2 separate regions of the Homo sapiens genome follow, and region 2 is linked to region 1. A link means that fine-mapping ties the variant in region 1 to the expression of a gene that starts in the linked region. Tissue or cell type: nasal epithelium. Region 1 holds a variant in brackets; the other region holds the start of a gene. All regions are shown on one strand. Distances are between the middles of the regions.

The links. PIP is the estimated chance that this variant, and not a neighbour inherited with it, causes the effect.
Region 2: TRABD2B starts here. The variant in region 1 is fine-mapped to the expression of TRABD2B in nasal epithelium (TOPMed, PIP above 0.99).

What each region holds. Positions count from the first base shown.
Region 1 is chr1:48,070,682-48,079,129 of GRCh38, reverse strand. The region is part of intron 4 of LINC02794 (long intergenic non-protein coding RNA 2794); the gene reads right to left. Among named protein-coding and RNA genes, the nearest start is that of LINC02794, 25 kb to the right of the region's middle. The variant TA/A (reference allele first, on the strand shown) is at 4,938.
Region 2 is chr1:47,993,412-48,000,135 of GRCh38, reverse strand. It overlaps TRABD2B (TraB domain containing 2B), which reads left to right and starts at 2,751. Exons shown (of 7, transcript NM_001194986.2): 1 at 2,751-3,448; 2 at 5,539-6,102. The coding sequence starts at 3,347. RefSeq lists an enhancer at 2,210-2,259.

The sequences.
Region 1 (8,448 bases):
TCTGTCTCTCTCTCAACTTGAGTGGAAATGCTTTCTTTCCCTTCGCTTTCCTTTTCTTAGGTTTTTCTGTTTCATAATTCTCTACCCTTCTCTTCTACCTTAAAGACATGACTGACAGCATAATGTAGTATAAAGAACATCAGATGGGGAGTCAGAAGAGCTGGGTTCCAGCCCTAACATCTGGTGGAATCCTGGCCAAGTGTCTTCCCTCTCTGAACCTAAGCGTCTTCCTGTCAACAAAGAAGACCTCAAGTTGCATGTTGTTCAAAAGCCCTTTCTGATTCCGAATGTCTGTATGTCTCTGTAGCAATGTTCTCATATTGAAATTTCTCTGTGCCTATGGAAATCATATGGAGAATTTGGTTTCATTCATTATTCAGCCAACGTTGATTGAGCACAGATAATATGTCAGGCATTCTACTGGGTGATGGGGATCCTGGGGTGAACAAGCCAGACAAAGTCCCTGCCTAGAAGGAGCTTACATTCAAGAGTCTTGAGGAACACTAGATGATAAATGCATTACTTCACAATCACAGCTGAAGATAAGAGGAATTGATGTGTACTGCACACCTCCCATGGCAGGTGGTATGCTAGACACAGTGGCCTGGGTCATCCCAGTTGATCCTCACAATCACCTTAAGAGTTATTGTCATGCCCATTAAAGACTAAAATGAGGCTAAGAGACATTCGGTAGCTTAGTCAATGTCACCCAGCTAGGTGTGATGGAGATGAGTCCAATAGCACACCTGGTGTCCTTTTCTCATGAGCACACTCTCTGTTCTCTCTGGATTCTGCATTCTGAGGTCTGGGCACACCAGGAGAGCAAATCTCAGAGCCCCACTTCTCAGGAAATACCCCAAGGCACTTTCTCTGGCCCTTGCTGGAACATCTACGCTTCAGACCACCATAGCTCACTCCCTCTGTCCCAACGTCTCAGCAGGGAGAGCTGTGAGATTTGTAGTTGGATTCTGCCCTCCTGGCCCATATCCCTATAAAATAGCAAGCAGAGAAAAGAGGGCGGAACACAATTTAAAAAAATAAACACTGACGCAGATAAGAAATGACTGGGGAGTCTTGGGGATTTATGCCTCATGAAGTGAGATGGCAAAGGAGGCCAGACAGGGAGCAGACAGCCCTGACGCCTCTGCCTCATGGATAATTTATCCCAGAAAGTAGAAGCCTCTGTTTGCAACTCACACAGGCCAGAGTGGTTTTCTGGGTCTTCCTAGCCCACTGTCTGAGGAGACCCAGGCTGAGTCAGAAGTTTTGTTTTCCCAGACTAAACCCACATGTGTGATACTTTTTTATGTCTTTCTACTTCGATGATTTGTTGGAGGTTCATCTTACACTCCCAGTGAGGCTGACAGGACGGAGACCCTTATCCCTGTTGGTCAGGTGAGAAAGTTGAAGCTAACAGACCCTTACCCAGGCATGCCCAGGGAATTGGGAGTATGAGCCATGGTTGGTTGACATTACAGCTCCCATAGGTACGCATTTCCCTCCTTCTCATTCTCCTTCCCCAACTCTAACCCACCCTTAAATTAACTCTGTTTAGCTAATGAATTAATTCAACTACCCTTTATGGAGTAATAATATGTACTAAGACTGCTGCAGACACAGAGATGAACAAGATAAAGGCAGATGTTACAAACAAATGAACACTTTTTAAATACATGTTGTTGGTGATTATAAAGATTATGTTAATTGAGGGTCTCTCTCCAACATAATAATCAGCAGAACTGAAAAGCAGAAGAAATTAACTAAAAACCGTAGGGATAAAATGAAAGAGGTAATCAATGCTTGGGTCAAGCACAAGAAAGACTTTATTTGCTGGGTTCTTCAAAAGCAATTCAATGGGCATTGGGAAGGTTCTTGTCCTGGATGATGTCCCAGCAAATGAGTTCATGGATAGGAACATGCTTCAAGATTAATAAGGAGCTGACAGTCACACTCGATTGTGATGTGGATGCTTAACTTGGCTGTGTGGCAGGCCCTCAAGCATTTTTATATCCACCAGCTGCTATAGAGGTAAAGCTCAATCTTCATGTAGGATGAAAAGAATTCAGGTTTTGATCTGATTAACTTGGTTTTTAATCCCCACTAGCTGTATGCTTAGAGCTAGTTGCTTAGCCTCTCCCAATCTGTTTTCTCAACCATGAAATACAGGTAGCAATATCTACCTCAGAGTTTTGCCTTGGAAAAAAAACATAAACTACATTAGTCCACATTTCATGGGAGGCCCCAAGATAATGGACACCACCTCTGCAAGTACAGTGTAGGACCAACCTGTAAGAACTGCAAAAGATTGTATTAAAAACTACTTTTGAGGTTCCTTGCTGATCCTTACTCAACTCTGGCATATAAAAGAGGTGGGAGAGGCCAAGAACAAAGTGGGGGATTAGATAGGGTTTTTCTGGAAAGAGCTGTAAGTACATCGTGTGTCTTTGTCCACTCCCTCCATTAACTCAAGCCCGGGGAAAGTGACTTTAATGGGATAGTTGGAGAACATGATGTTTTCCCTATATTTGGGGGATACTGTAAACTAGAATCTGATTCCCACTGCTAAATGTAAAAGGTTAGATGCCGGCTGACCAGCTGCCCAACAGAAGAATAAAGGGAGGTTGCTGCACTGGGGACAATGTAAATTCTCAGTTTATCAAGGTAGAGAATGCAGATGTGTTTTCTTGAACTAGATCTGGAACACACGACAGAGAGATGGTCTAAGTCTTCCTAAACCCTGTCAGAGGACCATCTAGTGGGATGAAGGACCTCAGCATAAAGAGGCAGGTGGTGCTGGAAGATGCCTAGGGGCTGGGGAAGGAATCTGAAGGAGCCAGCTAGAATCAAAATGCATTTACCCACATCAGGGATCACCTGCATGAGTTGGGGGTGGGGATTTTCCAAAGAACCCACAAATATACCAAATGAAAGAAGAAGTAAGGTTAATGCCTGCCAAGCTCAGAGAGACCCTGTATCTTCAATTCTATACTTGTCCAGTAAAAATTCTCCTGTTCCTCTTCCTTCTTTTTCTCTTCCCATTCCTGACAATAGAGATATATATATATATATATATATATATAAATCCACAATGGTTAGCAAGACATAGACAGAGAAGTAGAAAGAAGAAACAGCCCCTTTCTCACTGCAGGAGATTGAGCCTCTTTCTCACTGCAGGCCAGCAGCAGTTCCAGGTCCAAGCAAGTAGTGAGGGGAAAAAAAATCTTGCTTTTAAAGGAAGTTTGAAGTTTATTACTGCTATTATTGTTAATAGGTTAACAGTAGTGCTATGGTTTAAATGTGTTCCCTGAAAAGCATGTGTTGGAAACTTAATCCCCAATGCAACAGTGTTGGGAGGTGGGGCTTAATGAGAGGTAATTAGGCCATGAGGGCTCCACCCTCATGAATGGATTAATGCCAATTATAAAAGGGCGTGAGGCTGGGAGTTCAATCTCTTGCCCTCTCTTTGCCTTTCCACCATGGGACGATGCAGCAGGAGGGCCCTCGCCAGATGCCAGCTCCTTGATCTTGGACTTCCTATCCTCCAGAACCATAAGAAATAAATTTCTCTTCCTTCTAAATTACCCGGTCTCAGTTATTCTGCTATAGCAGCACAAAATGGACTAAGATGAGTAATAGTAGTATCCTAGACAAGTTAATTACCGAGCAGAAACAATATTTTGTGATTTAAGACAGATGGGGAAATTTGTATTACCTAAGAGAAAACAGAAGAGTCATAAAGCAAGTCCCAGATTTCATCAAAAAGAACAAAAGAGACTCAGAAGTGCAGAATAACTGATGAAAGTTGTTTCTTGATTATTCCCCCATGAGTCTGGCTTATTCAATGTAACAGTTACATGAGATAACATTGTCATCCCTTCCTTGAACACAGTTGACCTGAGTATATCTGAGTTTGCATCTACCATGTCTCTCGACTTGGTTGACCAGCAGTGGACAAAGTCAAACAGCTAGGTTGTCTTCGAGCAGATACTGTGTATCTGGCCTTTTCTCTAACCCAAGGGTAGAGATAGGAGGAGACCCAGTCTTAATCCTTGGCCAACATGCAGGTCACAGGGTTGGAAAGCCCCTTAGAGATGTATGGATGGGGTGGCAGAGACCAGAGAGGGGTTAGTTTCCCAAATCCATTGTACAGCCAGGCATGGAACCTGGTTCTCCTCTGTCCCTCTTCCCTAACTATCCTATTACTCCCTCCACACAACCTCCACCTAGAAACCTAAGACAGGGTAGAATCAAGTGCTAGGTTGACCAATCTGATGGTATCTACCATTTATTGAGCATCTACTATGTGCTAGGATATAAGCTAGCCCTAATTCTAATAATAACCTTCCAAGGTAGTGGTATCAGTAGCTTTTTCATAGATGAGGAAATTGAAGCCCATGAGGTTAAACAACTTGTCCATGGTCATATAGCCATTAAGGGGTAAAGCTGGGATTCAAACCAGTCAGCCTGACTCCAAAGCCAGTGATCTTGTCACACTGCCTTACCATCTCTCCTGAGGGCTGCTGGAACCAGGAAAGAGTGGTGCCAGCAAGGCTACAGGTGCGTCCACAAAGCCCCAAAGGGAGCCCCCAGGCTTCCCACAGTGCCATCTTTGTGGAAAAGAAATGGTGCAGACTGGCCCACATGCTCGCCCAAAGCCAAAATGACCAGAATAGGCTTGCACATTACCAATTCCTTCCAAGCAACTAAAAGTGATGCAAATTTTTGAAATTATAAAGCTGAATAACTTTTAATTAGTTGGCAAATTACATGGCCAGAGGGGCCTTACTCTGTTCTCTGCAGTAGATATTAACTTTATTAACTTTGTTCCTTTTGCAAGTTAAGTTGGTTCTTTGTGAAGGTGGGTGCGTGCGAGTGTGGTAAGTTCTCATTTTATTTGGCAGGAATTTTGGCTGAGATTTACAAGGAAAAGATACTTT[TA/A]GATTTTTCTTCTGATGGTGAACTTGGCCTCCCTTACTCCCTACTGAAACTCTACTCTTTGGAGGCGGAAACGGGGGATAAAAAAAGGATAAAGAAAGACAGAAATTAGGCGGCGAAAACAACTGAAGAATAAATAATCCTCTTAAACCAGTCACTGGGAGAGGCAACGGAAAGAGCCCGAGACGGGGGAAGGGGGGGCGGGGAGCAGGCGGGGTGGGTTCTGGTTGGGTGATTCACTTACTAGCTGGCTTTCTGACCTTGGACAAATGACCTAATCTCTACAGGTCTCTGTTACCCTGTCTGTAACATGGAGAGGATAACCCCAGCTCAAAGGCCTCCCTCAGGTCTGCTGAGAGGATCAAGTGGGATATCATCTGATAAAGTGATTTGACTTTTACAAAGGACTGTCCAAATAGAAGGTTGTGGTGTTATCTCTGACATCTGAAGCGAGGTCCTTGGATGTTCCTGGAGTCAAACCTGACAACAAGGAAACTTTCAGCATGACCGAGAAAAGGGTCTCCCTTAGCTCAGCTCCTGGGAGGGCCCCTGAAGGAGATATAAAATGTGAGTCTGTGGGTGGGAGTGATTGTGCTGGGCATATTTAATGTATGTCAGCATTCACTCACACTTTTGAGTGTGCACATCTTATTTCTTGTATATACAAAACTGATGTGTGTGAATGCCTGTGTCAATATGGTGGGCAGAGAGGGTCATTTATTCGTTCATTCCAGGAATGAGTTTTGAGGATTTACTCTGCTCTCTAGATGCTGGAGATTCAGTGGAGAACAAGACAGACTAGCATTTGCATGTACGTAAGAGTGTTTATAAGAAAACATGAGTTCTTAAGTGTATGGAGTATTAAGTGCATATGTGAGAATATCTGTGTGAAAACACATGTCCTTATGTATTAGGAAGTGTGTACTTGTGTAAGAGTTTGCATGTGAGTGTTTGAGAATCCGTGTATTTGTTCCTATGTGTGGTGAGAGAAAAAAAGAAAGAAACAATTCTTGGTCACCCTAGAGGGCATCAAATTTTGTTAAAATACCTTAGAGCTGAAAGACCCTGTCTTAGTCCATTTGTGCTGCTATAACAAAGTATCAGAGAACAGAAATTTATTTCTTATAGTTCTGAAGTTTGGGGAGTCCCAGATCAAAACACTGCCATTGGTCTCTGGTAAAGGTTGCTGTCTGCCTCTGAGATGATGCCTTGTTGCTGCGTCTTCCAGAGTGGAGGAACACTGCGTCCTCACATGGTGGAAGGCAGAAGGTGAGATAGTGCTCCCTTCAACCTGAGCTCTTTCATAAGGGGCCAAATCCCATTCATGAGAATAGAACCCTCATGACTTAATCACCTCCCACAGGCCACACCTCTTAGTACTGTTGCATTGGGGATTCTGTTTCAACATGGATTTTGGAGGAAGCACAAACATTCAAACTATAGGAGACTCTGAGCTTTCATCTAGTTCAATCCTTAACATTCCAGATAAGGAACCAGAGAAAGGAAACAGTGTGTATAAGGTGACCAGATGGCCAAACAAGGGCCAGAATATACACCTACGGCTTTTGAGCCCAGGCATCTTTTCCTAATGAGGATGTGCGTAAATGTGAATGTAAACTGTGCATCTGCAAGGAAGAATCTGGGAGAGCAAATGGAAAGGTTGGCCTGGCTCGAATATGGAGAACCCTGAATGCCATGCCAGGAGGATTTGAGCAGGAGGGCAGAGTGGTCAGGTTTCTGCCTTCTAGGTGTCCTTCTACTGTGGAGAAAATCAGCTGGAGCAAGAGACACTGCAGGGGAGAGATTGTGAGAGGGCAGGTGGAGCCGTCCTGGTGAGAGGGGATGACACCTGAATTAGGGAGAGGGGAATAAAGGATGAGGTGGGGCCGGGCACGGTGGCTCACACCTGTAATCCCAGCACTTTGGGAGGCCGAGGCAGGTGGATCACGAGGTCAGGAGATCGAGACCATCCTGGCTAACATGGTGAAACCCCGTCCCTACAAAAAAAAAAAAAAAAAAAAATTAGCCAGGCATGGTGGCGGGTGCCTGTAGTCCCAGCTACTCAGGAGGCTGAGGCAGGAGAATGGTGTGAACCCAGGAGGCGGAGCTTGCAGTGGGCCGAGATCGCGCCACTGCACTCCAGCCTGGGTGACAGAGTGAGAATACGTCTCAAAAAAAATATAAAAAGGATGAGGTGGGCAGGGGAATGCTTCTAGCCTAGAATCAGAGGCTTTTATATCCGTTAGGATGTGGAAAGTGAGCTCACACATTCCAATCGTTTACACGATAAGGCAGTTTCCCCTAAACCTGAGAACCAGGAGGAGCCTGGGAGACTTTACAAGCATCTCATTAAAACTTCTCAATAGCCTGGTGAGGAGGCCATTATTTTCCCCATGTTACTGAAGACAACTGTGGCTCAGAGTGAGAGGCAGCTGCCCAAAGACACATAGTCTGATTTTGGTGGATCTAAAATAAGAGCCCAGGTCTTATGTGCTTAACAAAATATTGCATAAGTCAGCAATCACTTATTAAGCATCTACTTTGTGCCAGGAACTGTACTTGGCACTTTAGGCACATTACTTCATGTAAGCCTTCTGATGACCCTTTCTCCATTTTTCCAGTGAAGAAAATGAGATTCAGGGGTATGACCAAGAGTACACAGTTGGTTCAACCTGTACCTGAACCCAAGCCATCTGATTCCAATGCCCATCGTTTTCAACGATTCTGCATTTCCTTTCAAAATCGGAACAAATGTGCATGCAGTAGTTTAGGAAGAAGTGAATTTAGGAATTCCCATCCCTAGAGAATGTACAGGCTTAGATTATGGGCTGATTCAAAACAGTTTTATCAAATGCCTGGGTGATAAGTCCATGCTGCAGATTGAAGAGTCCTATTCCTAATCAACAAAAACCACATACAGGAAGTCAGATTGGGCCTCCTAAATCCCATCGCCTGCCTTTCTCAGGGGTAGAGCAACTGTGGTCTCTACTGGGTCCCAAGAGCAACCATATGGGGTTGGAGGCTGGAAATCAAGACATATGGGACACAGGGTCCCAATAATTTCATTGTGAGGCCCAGGCAAGACCTTGTGGGTATGGGTCCTTCCAGCTCCCGCCATTTGGGATTCTATGTCCTCATCCACTCGCAGACACAACGTGCTTGTCCTTCAGTGACAGAAGGCTTGGTCTTTGCATCAATGCCAGCCTGGTTCCCTCACCCTGAGCAAGTATAGGAACTGAAAGCCTTCACGTCGCACACTTAGACCCGCTTCCTCAGATCCTGAGCCCACCCTGTCTAATGCAGAGAGGATAATGAGCCCCTCCTACTGGAGGCTGAGATCTAGAATTTGTCTGATTTTCCTAAGGCCTGTCTCAGGTTCAACTGCACTGAGACTCTCTAGCCCTGCCACTCTTTCAGATGTTTCCTGCTATCTACTCTATTCCCGTTTCCTCAAATCGCTGACTGACGTCCTATTATAAACCAGACAGGACGTGGAGAACCTGCCTTCCAAGA
Region 2 (6,724 bases), 78 kb after region 1:
CAGTGCTTCATTTTGTTTTATGGCCAAATAATATTCCATCATATGACTATAACATGTTTTTTAAATGTATATATTTAGCATATGATATGATATTTTTATATATCACATTTTGTTAATTTATTCATAAGTTGATGAACACTTGGGTTGTTTCCACCTTTTGGCTATAATAAATAATGCTGCTATCAGGCTTTACGTAGAAGTTTTTGTGTCGATGAATGTCCTCAGTTCTCTTGGGTATATATCTAGGAACAGAAAAATCTATTTGTTCTTGCTTCTCTTTAAGAATATCAGTAACAATACTGGTAAAGATCTTAAGACATTATTGCACACATTGACGCACAGAAAGTGAGGGGGACAGGAAACTGGCTGGGGAAAGAGAGGCACAGAAAAGCTAACTGTCCTGCCTTGGTCACAGTCACCACGTGTACCATGGAGGAGGAAGTCATAGCTGACACTCATGAAAATTAGCCAACAAAACTTTTATAATTTTAGGAAAAAAGATACCAGGGAAACTTTGTTTACAATACAGCAGGGGAAGGTTTTTTAAATCCACACACATATTTACACACATCATTGTTTTAAATTGATCAGGCTCTTTCTTATCCACTATCTGACTTGTGTCTTCTAATTCTCCAATGAGAACCATGACCCTCCCTCCAGTGGAATTCAGTTCTCACTTCCCCTCATCCTTACCAGCAGAGTGGTGACCTTGTAGGGAGTTTTGGAGCTCCGGAAAGTGGAGACTCTTTAAAGGACATCTCTTGTCAGAGCTGCAGGTCTCAGAGCTCTGTGTGTGGGAAGCATGGCGCTGTCCTGTGCTCTCATACATACCGTCTGGGCACTCTGGCCTGCTTGGTGTCTGTCACCAAGTGTGTGTGTAGCTAAGAGGCTGAGGTTGCTCCAGACACCCAGTAAGTTGAACCATATGAAATTGCCAACATGCATTCACTTGTAACTTACAAAAGTGGCAACTTCATGTGCACATGAGGGTAAACCTGCCAGTCTCTGGTGTCCCCTTCTTTCCTTCCCGTGTTCCTCCCAACCACCCAGATCCTGTGCTCTGGAAAACCTTTCTGGCCCTCCAGCCCTGCTTGGTCTTTCTCACTCAGCCTTCTAGTATGGTCATTTTCTAGCTGCTCAATCTGGTACCTGCAGGCATGAGTGGGAGAAGTGGGGAGAACACTGGGCTGGGAGTCAGGAGACCGAGGCTTGGGCTCTGGCTCCCTCCTCACTGACTATCTGCCCACTGGTCTCCCTGCCTCCAACTTGCCCCCTCCAATTCATGCCCCCGATGAGCACAGATCTACTCTAGCCACCTTAAACTTCAAATCTTGCAGTGACTTCCTATGACCTGATACCTAGAACGGACAGACTCCCCAGCTTGGCCAGAAGACACAACTTCAGCTCCTGCCACTTGCTTTTTGCCGCAGCCATGGGTAACTGCTTGCAGTCCCCTGCAGGTGTGCTCTCACACTGCTGCGCCTTGGCACCTGCTCTTCCTCCGCTTGGAAGGCATGTGCACCTCCTTCTCTAAGCTACCTCTGACTTATTTTTCAAGACCATCTCCCAGGCGTCTTCCCTGGGCCTCTGAGCTGTGTTAGGAGCTCTTCCTCTCTGCTCCCATTTCCTTGTGCTTCTGTCTCTCCTGGCCCTCATCATCTGTATTTTAATGGCGTCTTTGCATATCTGTCTCTGTCTGTCTCCTTCTCTAGGCTGTGGGCTCCTGACAGTATGACCTAATTCATCTGTCAATCTTTGTTGTCAGGATAGGAAGAGACGACAAACTCTCCTTTAACAGAACCAAGCAGGGGTGCCTGTGCCTCCCTTTCTTCATTTGCTGGAAACGGCTCAGAAGCTTAGATCTTGTGCTCTGGCCTTCTCTAAGTCTCATTTGCCTCTTGAGGAAGGGTAGGTTGGTTTAAGGGGTCTTTCAAGTCTTGTGGTCTAAGAAACTGGGATATCAATTCTCACTCTTCCAGAGACAGACACAGGGATCCTGCGTGGGTCCAAGGACATAGATAAGAGGGGATTACTTAAATGGAAGATTCCAAGGAATTTTGAGGATTTCTTTTCTTTTCTTTTACATTTGGTGTTTGCAGAGCATCTACCAAGCGCATCCCAGAGCTACGCGTGACATAAGGTTGCACACAGCAGCTTTCTGAATTTTGTGTGATTGCTGCCTCCCCAGTCCAACTCCTGTCCCTCTCGCTGTTCGCTCCTGCCAGGATCTGCGGGACGGATGCGTTGGGCGAGGCTGGTCCCCAAATCTGTCGCTGCCACCAGTCCGCGTCCGCCGCCGAGCCGGCGGAGGTTGGCCGAGCGGGTCCTTAGCCCGGGCGCCCTCTGGCGGCCGCACGGGGAAGCTGCGGCCCGGTCGCGCCTGGCGAAGGGAAGGAGGAGGGATGGGGGAGGAGGAGGCGCGGGCAGGGGAGGGGAGGAAAAAGTTGCGCTGGGAAGTTTGGAAAGTTGGGAAGTGGCTGCTGCGGGCTTCGCCTCCCTCCGCGCGTGTGAGGGAGCGAACGAGGGAGCGAGAGAGGAGCGAGCGAGCGCCTGCCATGCCCATCAGACCCCGCCTCGCCGCGCCCGGGCGCGGAGCTAGCCCTGACTCCCTGCCGCCCGGCCCGTCCCGGCCCGGCCCGGCGCGGCCCCGGCCCCTCGCCCCCCCGCCCCCCGCGCCAGGTCCTCCCCTCCCCCGCCCCAGCGGCCCCAGCCCCCAGCCCGGCCCGGCTCCGCGCCGCTCTCCCGCCCTCCTCTCTCCCTCCCTCCCGGCCGCGGAGCAGCATGGCGGAGCCCGGGCAGCGGCCGCGCGGCCGCCCGCCGCCCCTCTGAGCCGGGCTCGGGGGCAGCCGGTCGCCCCAGAGCCGCCCCCCACCCCTGCCGCGCCTTCCGCCGCACTTGTCCCACTGCGCGCCTCCTGGAGCGCCGCGCACCCCTGGGACCCTTGCGTGCCCCGGGTGCCCAGCATAACCCCGGGACCCTTGCGCACCCCGGGTTCTCGGTTCTGCCCCAGGAACCCCGCGCGCCCCTGGACCGCGACGCAGCTCCGGGACCCCGCGCGCCCCCGGACCCCAACACGCCCTCAGCACCCGGGGGCTCGGCCAGCGAGGTTGAGCGCCCGGGGGAGGGGCCCAGCCCTAGAGGGTCTCCCTCTTCCAACAGACGGAGCCCGGCCCCAGAGAAACCCCCAGGTCCGACAGGGACAGTCAGCCACGCCCCAGAGGGCGCCCAGCATCCTGCGGCTGGAGCCCCGTGCTCCAGAGGAAACTCCGTGCCCAACTGGGGGCTCCCCGCCCCGCTGAGGGGCGCCGCCCAGGAGGGTCCCCCGCGCCCCGCGGGCCCTGGCAGGATGCACGCCGCCCTGGCGGGGCCGCTGCTCGCCGCCCTCCTCGCCACCGCTCGCGCCCGCCCGCAGCCCCCGGACGGAGGACAGTGCCGGCCGCCCGGATCGGTGAGCGAGCGCCTGCCCGGCCACTCTCCCGCCTGCCTGGGTATTCTAGTCCCGTGGGACCATGGTTTGGGTCCTGCTTCCGCACCCACCTTAGCCCGCCCGCTCCACCTCCACCCCCCGGGCGCAGCCTCGGGCGCCCTTCCTTCGCTCCTGCCTGTCCCGGCTCCAGCTCCCAGCCAGGAGCGAGAAGGGGCGCTCCCTCTCCGGTTCCTTCTCCACACGCTGCCGCTCTGGGGCTCTCCTCTTGACTTGTGGTCCTGCTTGGACGCCTCCTCTCTCTCTGCCCCTTTTTGTCTCTCCTTTCTCATATTTTTTCTGTCTTTACCCTTCTGGTCTCTCTGCCCGCTTCTGACTGTGTTTTTCTACCGTTCCTTGCCCTTCTCTTGACTTCCATCGAACCCTTTTGCTCTCCCATTCACACACTCTGCCCCCTCCCAGGCTTCCCTCTCTCTCCCTGCCCTCCCACTCTGACCTAAGACAAACTTTCTCCCTGTTCCTCGTTCTCACCTCCATCTCTGCGGCCCAGGCTCCCACCACCTACTCTCCCAAGCGTCCATATTTCGTGAAAAGAGGGAAGATTTCAGAGGAGAGGAAAAGGCAATGCCAGGACATACTGGCCTAATATTTCTTGGGGTCGAGTAATTACTGGTTCTCCTAATATTCCTTCCAAAACAAAGAACCTCTTTATTTCCTTCAGTATCTTTCCCTCTAAGTGTAAATTAATGCATTGACAGTAACCCTGAATTGGAGGCCAGGAGACCATAGGGTCTGGCTGCTGTAGGTGTGCTGCCTGTTAGCCCGGAATTCGCTGACCTTGGGCAAGGTGCACCTCCAGCAGCCTGCCTTGTGCACAAACAGGGAGCTCGTTGGCTGACTGGGCTCTCAGTCTATCGCCAACATGCTGGGATTAACAGTTTGGGGTTGTTAGTAAAGTAAGGTACTGTTCTCCCACAACCCACCCATCCCAACACATACTTTTCATTTGTGCCAGAATCAGGCAGAAAAGTGTTATGAGTTGGTCTAAAGCTTGCAAGTGGTCAGTGGGCACTCCAGGGATTTTTCTGGTTGGAAAATGGCTTTGCCCTTTATGCCTAGCCCTGACTTGGATCTGTAGAAAGGACCCCTGTCTGCATGCCTCTCTTCAGCTCCTACATACACACACACGCGCACACACACACACACACACGCACACACACTCCCCTAAGTCGGAGCTTAGGTCATAGAAAATGACAAACAACTGGGGTTGGAAATCAGGTATACATTTTTAGGGGAGGAGCCTGGAAAGTACCCAGAATATGTACATTTCTTGGGACTAATTGTAATGGAATCCTTTCCTCCCAAACCAGATTCTGAAACTTGACTTGGCCTTGCAAGATTTTAAAGCACTTTCTCATCTATGGTCTCAGCTGGTCGAGCAAAGTAGCTGACACCCCAGACCTGCCCTCCAAAAAGAAAAGTGTATTCACCGTGATGAATGTGAAGTAGCTGTTTAAATAGGTGTGCTATTTTTAATAGGTGTTCTGCTTTCAAAGTGCTCTTGGCTTATATCTTCTAATGGTTGGATTTAAAAGTTATATGACTTCCTCCCTTCTTGCCAGAGCAGGACTCTTGGTCCTCCTTTCCCCACCCTCCGCATGAAACACCACCGGTGAAGGTTTGACTTGGCCAAGCATGAATATTCTCAGGTGGTGTGGCAGTCCTTGGCACTCACAGGGAACGCTAATCATGAGAGTTTCCCTTCATTGCTGACTTCCTCTGTACCTGGCACTGCTCTGAGGGCTTAATATACATATATTGTATCTTTTAATCCTCCCAACAACCCGAGGTAGTTGCTTTCACCCCCATTTTACAGATGAGGAAACTGAGCCTGTGGAAGTGAAATGATTCACTCAAGATCATACATCTAAGACAGGGCAAAGCTAGGTTTTCAATGTGGGTCTTTCAGGCTCCAAAGACCTGGCTCTTTACCACGGCCTGTGTATGGTCTCTGCCTCCCATCCCCACCTCCCTCTGCAACGTGCCTCTGGGCTACCCTGACTCTACTCTGTTGCCTTCGGCCTCACTGCCTTGCCTCTTCTCTACTCCTGCAGCAGAGGGACTTGAACTCCTTCCTGTGGACGATTCGGCGTGATCCTCCGGCCTACCTGTTTGGCACTATTCACGTCCCCTACACCCGCGTCTGGGACTTCATCCCGGACAACTCCAAGGCAGCCTTCCAGGCTAGCACCCGTGTCTACTTTGAGCTGGACCTTACAGACCCCTACACCATCTCGGCCCTGGCCAGCTGCCAGCTGCTGCCGCACGGGGAAAACCTGCAGGACGTGCTGCCCCACGAGCTTTACTGGCGCTTGAAGCGCCACCTGGACTACGTGAAGTTGATGATGCCCTCCTGGATGACGCCCGCTCAGCGGGGCAAGGGGCTCTATGCTGACTACCTATTCAATGCCATCGCGGGCAACTGGGAGCGCAAGAGGCCCGTCTGGGTGATGCTCATGGTAAACTCGCTCACAGAGAGGGACGTGCGCTTCCGTGGTGTGCCCGTGCTCGACCTCTACCTGGCCCAGCAGGCTGAGAAGATGAAGAAGACCACAGGGGCTGTGGAGCAGGTGGAGGAGCAGTGCCATCCCCTCAACAACGGGCTCAACTTCTCCCAGGTAGGCATGCAGTGCCCCAGCCCGGAGCTGACAGCCCTGGGTACCTGGGTCCTCTTCTCTGATTGTCTTTCTTCTCCGAGGGGGAGGGGGAGGCAGCCAGAGTCAGGTCCTTTTTCTGGAAGGAGAGGTTCTGCTGGGCAGCGAGGCAGCACCTGGCTGCTCTGGTGGTATCAGTTGAGAGTGGCGTATACTGGAATTTGGGGTAAGAGTCTGCGTGTTTGCTTCTATTTCAGCAGTATTACATGTTGGGGATGTACACTCCTCACCTGCTGTGCTTGCCTGGGCAGAAAGAATTTCCCTCAGAGCATCAGAGTGATCAAAAACAAAAAGAGGGGGCTTCCGGTTTGTGTCAGGCCTTCCTGAGGCCCTGGAGGCTGTATTGAGGCTGGTGTGTGGACAGTGCCCAAGAAAGTAAGAGGAAGGCATGGCTCCCAGGGCTGAGCCAACAAGGAGTTGCCTGGGACCTGGCGACAGTAGAGTGCTGCTTGCCATTTGAGGTTAAGCACCATCAGTTTCCCGGCTCTGTGCAAAGCTCTAGGTGACCCTCGGACCGCCTCGCTAAGGCCAGGAGAAAGTCAGCCAGGAGAGTTTTAAGGTTAATAATTTCAGAGAAGCGTGTTCG